Linked DNA regions of Homo sapiens: region 2 is linked to region 1. Evidence: fine-mapped expression QTL. Tissue or cell type: blood mononuclear cells. Region 1 holds a variant in brackets; the other region holds the start of a gene. All regions are shown on one strand. Distances are between the middles of the regions.

Region 1 (2,649 bases):
AAGCAGATGAGCGGTGGTCTGTGACTCGGCAGTCCCTGCTGTGTGTGAAGGGCTGGGGCCCGGGAGCTGTGCCCAGGCGCCCGGCGGTTTTCTGTGCTCGGTCCACATCCATGTTTTCCAGGAGGCAGGTGGGAGGGCAGCGCTCGGATTGAGAGGCCGTTTAGCGTCGTGTGCTTATCTGTGGAAAAAGTTTGAAGTCCCAGAAAAGGGAGCCTAAGCTGGAAAACTTACTTAATTTCTTACGGAAATTCCACATCAAGGTCTTGAGTATCTGATGGGAGAAGCGTCTGGGAGAGCTGTAGTCTGTGGCTCGGCCCCGTCCTGCCGCAGACCCAGGACTTAGGTTGTCTCTGCTTTGCTCTGGTTTTGTGCCTTAGGAATAAAGGTGTTTCCTCAGCCAGCTATTCTGGAGCTCCGGGGACTGTCGTGCTGGGCTGCCACGGCGGCCAGGACGGTCCCCTTCCCAGAGGCCCCACGTCCACCAGTTGGGGAGGCCCGTTTGCCACAAGCTGTGCTAGTGAGACTGACCCGAGGGAGGGGACGGTGGGAAAGCTGATCATGTGCTTTTAAAAACAGAGAAAGGAGCCGAAAGGCGAGGCCAGCTCTTCCAACCCTGCCACGCCCATCAAGATCCCGGACTGCCCAGTTCCCGCCTCGCTGCTGGAGGAGCTGCTGAGACCACCGCCCGCCGTGAGCAAGGAGCCCCTCAAGAACCTGAACAGCTGCCTCCAGCAGCTCAAGTACGACCGTATTCCGTGCTGCACTTCAGCTAGTCTTAAAGATTAATGCCCTCTTACCTGGGAGGGCACTCCTGGTGCCAGTACTGAGTGCCCAGCAGAGTTTCAGCAGGTTTATATAAGGGTGGGGGACTCGCATACATAGCCTCTGAGGTTTATATAAGGGAGGGACTTGCACACACAGCCTTTGAGGTTTATATAAAGGGGGAAGGACTCAGCCTCTGAGGTTTATATAAAGGGGGAGGGGGACTCGCACAGCCTCTGTGGTTTATATAAAGGGGGAGGGACTCACAGCCTCTGCGGTTTATATAAAGGGGGAGGGGGACTCGCACAGCCTCTGAGGTTTATATAAAGGGGGAGGGGGACTCACACAGCCTCTGCGGTTTATATAAAGTGGGAGGGGGACTCGCACAGCCTCTGAGGTTTATATAAAGGTGGGGGAACTCGCACACACAGCCTGTGAACTCATAGGTGGAAACTGCCTGGAGTTAAACTACCCTGATAGGCCCTGAGAAGCTGGAAGGCCACACATGGTGCACCTGGCAGCCTGAGGCTGAGCGAAGTGTGTAGGGCGGAGCCAGGCGGCGCCCCGAGGGCAGGTAACGGAGTGGAAGTCGTGTGTGCCAGGCCTCAGTGACAGCTTCCACCCTGCCGCCTGGTCAGGACTGGTCCTTGAGCCTGTGTCCTCTGCACAGTGTAGAGAACGGTGCTGAGAACAGCTGAGCTTCTGTGGTCTCAGTTGGTTTGCGGATCCCCGAAGGCGCCCCGGTCCACTCAGGTGCTAGCGAGTGACGCTGTCCACAGGTGGCGCGTTCTGCCTGGCACTTGTGTGATCTGGGCCTTCTTCCTCCT[T/C]CTTCTGTCCCAGGCAGGAGATGGACAGCCTGCAGCGCCAGATGGAGGAGCACGCCCTGACGGTGCACGAGTCTCTGTCCTCGTGGACGCCGCTGGAGCCAGCCACTGCCAGCCCTGTGCCCCCGGGGGGTCACGCCGGCCCACGCGGCGACCCACAGAGACACAGTCAGAGCAGGGCTTCCAAAGAAGGGCCGGGAGAGTGACTGCTGTGGACTCGCCTCCGTGCGCCGCTGCCCCAGAAGGCTCTTATCAATGTTATTTATTTGATTGTGTGGTCGATGTTTTTCTAAGACATGAAATTTAAGTTTTGTTTTGCCTTTAACAAGAAGTAAAATATATAGCAGAATGAGAGCCAAGGACTAGAAAAACATTCGAAGATCACAATTAGCTTTTCACATGGAATGACCAACTCTTAAAAGCCTGATAGGCTCTCGGCGAGGAGCTTTGAACGTGTCTGAAGGGTTACTTGTAGGTCGTGGCTTCTGAGCGGCCACCGATGCTGCTCTCTGCGGGTGACAGGGAGAGGCTGCGTAACTGGGAGCAGCTGTGTGACAGGGTCTGCGGCACCGCGCCTGGCCAGGCCGGCTGCAGTTTCTCACTTCCCTGTTCCATTCAGTAAGAGCTTTACTTTTCCGCAGAAATGAAATTTTATCTGTACCTTTGGCTTTTTACTTGTTTTTTTGGATAGCCATCCCACCATAGGATGTGTACATAGATACTGAATATCATAATCCAATCTTTGTTTTTTTTTTTTTTTTTTTTTTGAGACAGAGTCTCGCTTTGTTGCCCAGGCTGGAGTGCAGTGGCACACTCTCCGCTCACTGCAAGCTCCGCCTCCCAGGTTCATGCGATTCTCCTGCCTCAGCCTCTCGAGTAGCTGGGATTACAGGCGTGCGCCACTATGCCAGGCTAATGTTTGTATTTTTAGTAGCAATGGGGTTTCACCATGTTGGCCAGGATGGTCTCGATCTCCTGACCTCAAGTGATCTGCCCATCTCAGCCTCCCAAAGTGCTGGGATTACAGGCGTGAGCCCCTGCGCCCGGCCTGTCACCCAGTCTT
Region 2 (2,679 bases), 55 kb before region 1:
TGTTTTTTTGGTCAGATCTAAGAACTCTTCCCCAAGCTCTAGATGTGAGAAATTCTGTTTTCTTCTAAAAGTTGTATATTTTACGCCTCAGTCTGATCATTTTGTGTTAGAATTTGCATTTGCAGATAACATGATGGCCCATGTAAAAAATACAAGGATTTTACAACAACAACCGCAAAACACCAAATGAACCCTCAAACTAATGAGTTCAGCGAGGTCTCAGGATAAGAAAATCAACATAGAATTCATCACATTTGTGTAGACCAACAGTGAACACGTGGAAAACGTCAAAAACGCAGTGTTACAGTTGTTTGATGTGAAATACTATAAACTTAAAAGGTGCAGAATCTGTATGCTGAAATTACAAAATGCTGGTGGAAGAAATCAAAAGACCGAAATAAATGGAGGGGCCACCAGGGACGCAGATGAAGGACCGAGTCAGCGATGCCCGTGCTCCCCAAACGATCTGCAGCAGTTCCCATCAAAATCCCAGAAAACTTCGTAGACTGAAGCGTATTCCAAAATCCGCAGAGATGAGCGCAACATCACAGAGGACCCCGAGGCGCCCTCCAGGCCATTTCCTTCCTGACAGCTGGAAGAGCGGCCTGGCGGATGAGGGAAGGTGGAAAGCCGTTCCCCAGCGGCCAGCGGCCCGCGCCGTCCAGCTTTGCCCTTTTTAAAGGGGAAGCAAATAGGGTCCAAAGCAGCGTCGCCTTTGATCTGGCACCTGAAGCGCGAAGGGCGCCGGCCGGGTGGAGGTGCGGGGTTGGGGCGGGGACCCGACTAGGGCGGGCGGGGAAGTCACGCCCACACCGAGCTCGGCCGCGCCCATGCCGAGCCCCGGCCACGCCACTTCCGCCGGAAGCTCGGTTCAGCTTCCTGAAAGAGTTGGTCCTGCAGTTCCGGAAGTTGCGTTTCTACTAGGGAAAGGTCCGCAAACTCTTAAGGTCACTTTCTGAAGGCGGCCTCATCACAGTCGGAGGTGAGCTCGATCCGGACCCTGTGGGCAGAGGGTCCCCGGCCCTAGGGTGGCCACTTGAAGAAGAGGAGGACGTTCTCTGTTCCGGAACGAAAGTAGCGCGTGCAGGCTGTTTCCGGGGACCCGAGGCCGATGCACCGCTCGCCCCGCCCCTCTCACGGCCACGTCTCCGCCGGAGCATCCGGGCCGGGCGGCCTCCGGGGCTGCCAGAGCAGCAGGGTGAGGGGCTCGGAGGCCGCGGCGCCTCGGGGCTCGGGCTCCCGCTCCCGCTCCCGCTCCCGCAGTGCATGGGCGGGGGAGGCTCGAGGGGCGGCGGCGGGGCCTGGGCGCGTCCCTGCAGCGTGGCGGGACGGCCCCGTTCCAGTCACCCCCGCCTCGCTGCGGTGGCCTCGGGCCTGGGCGCCCGCCTTCAGCTGCGGCGGAGCTGGCTCTGTAAATGCCGGTGCCCGCGAGCCCTCCTGAATGCTTGTCTGCGCCCGACGAGCGCGGCCTGTCCCGAAGCTGTCCACTGCCACCACTCGGGCAGTGCTTGCTTTAGCCTGGCCCTTTGCAGCTGAAAGGCGTGACATGGTGTCGGGTGGTTCGTGGGAAGTCGGGGTTTCAGGAGTCCGTGTACTTCCTTGTTTGTCTTTGTCGCTGGCCGACTTGTCTTCATTCCAGGTGGCCAGAGCGAGTGGGGCCGGGCGTTGTCACGGGTATGAACCCGACGAATGTCAGTCGTGTGGCGGGTCCTGGGTATTGTGGGTCTGGGTCACTGCCCCCGCGGAGCCCACCTAGGACAGGGACACCCAGGGTCGCCAGCGAGAGGGTACCGGGCGGTGGTTGGGTGGGGTCCGCTACTCTAAGTGGGAGCCTGGGGGGCGGGCGACTTCCGTGCTAAGGCCTCTATGACGAGAAGCAAGCCAGGCAAAATTGTGAGAAAAGCGCGCCTCAGGCAGAAAGTTTGAAGACCCTGAGGGCGGAGGATGTGGCCACAGTGTAATGGCAAAGGGGGAAAGCGATGGCGGTAAGGATGTTGGTGTAGGCAGGTGCTGGATTCTTAAGAGGTTGGAGTTTATTGTCACTGGGCCAGTGTAAGCCATTTACAGATGACTCATGGATTTTTTTTTTTTTTTTAAGAGACTGGGTGTGTTGCTGTATTGCCCAGGCTGGTGTGGAACTCCTGGCCTCAAGCGATCCTCCCACCCCAGCCTCCCAAAGTGCTGGTGTTACAGGTGTGAGCAGCCACACCCGTCGTCGTGGATTATTTTGAACTGTCTTTTAAACGACATCAACATAGCGCTTTATAACCCTTTAATATCTTTTCAGGCAGTATACCTTAAATGGCAAGAAGGAAATAAATCATCTGACATCACTCAGATTGAAGAGGAGCTTTTTTTCCCCCGATTGCCTTAAGAAGTAGCATACTTTCCCAAGTGAGAATGCCTTCAGTTGGCTTTTAGCGATTTTGACAAGCAACAACTAAAGGGAAAATCGTGATAATTACTGTCATTTTATTGAGGACACGGGACAGACTCTGTGCCTTGTTATATTTAATCCTGGCAAAATTTTGCGTTCATTTTCTCATTGTTTTACTGGTGAGGAAACAGGCTAAATGTGATTAAGAAATCTTTAGCCCAGGCTCTCACAGGTAAGTGGTGGAGGGTCGGGAGCTGAGGCCGGAGTCCTGACTTCCAAGCCTGCCCTTCACGTCTCTGCAG

What was found. PIP is the estimated chance that this variant, and not a neighbour inherited with it, causes the effect.
Region 2: GOLGA3 starts here. The variant in region 1 is fine-mapped to the expression of GOLGA3 in blood mononuclear cells (TOPMed, PIP above 0.99).

What each region holds. Positions count from the first base shown.
Region 1 is chr12:132,772,248-132,774,896 of GRCh38, reverse strand. GOLGA3 (golgin A3) reads left to right here. Exons shown (of 24, transcript NM_001389683.1): 23 at 577-740; 24 at 1,603-2,649. The coding sequence ends at 1,792. Among named protein-coding and RNA genes, the nearest start is that of ANKLE2, 12 kb to the right of the region's middle. The variant T/C (reference allele first, on the strand shown) is at 1,590.
Region 2 is chr12:132,827,322-132,830,000 of GRCh38, reverse strand. It overlaps GOLGA3 (golgin A3), which reads left to right and starts at 1,132. Exons shown (of 24, transcript NM_001389683.1): 1 at 1,132-1,198. RefSeq lists silencers at 615-824, 1,195-1,254, 1,755-1,854 and an enhancer at 905-1,044.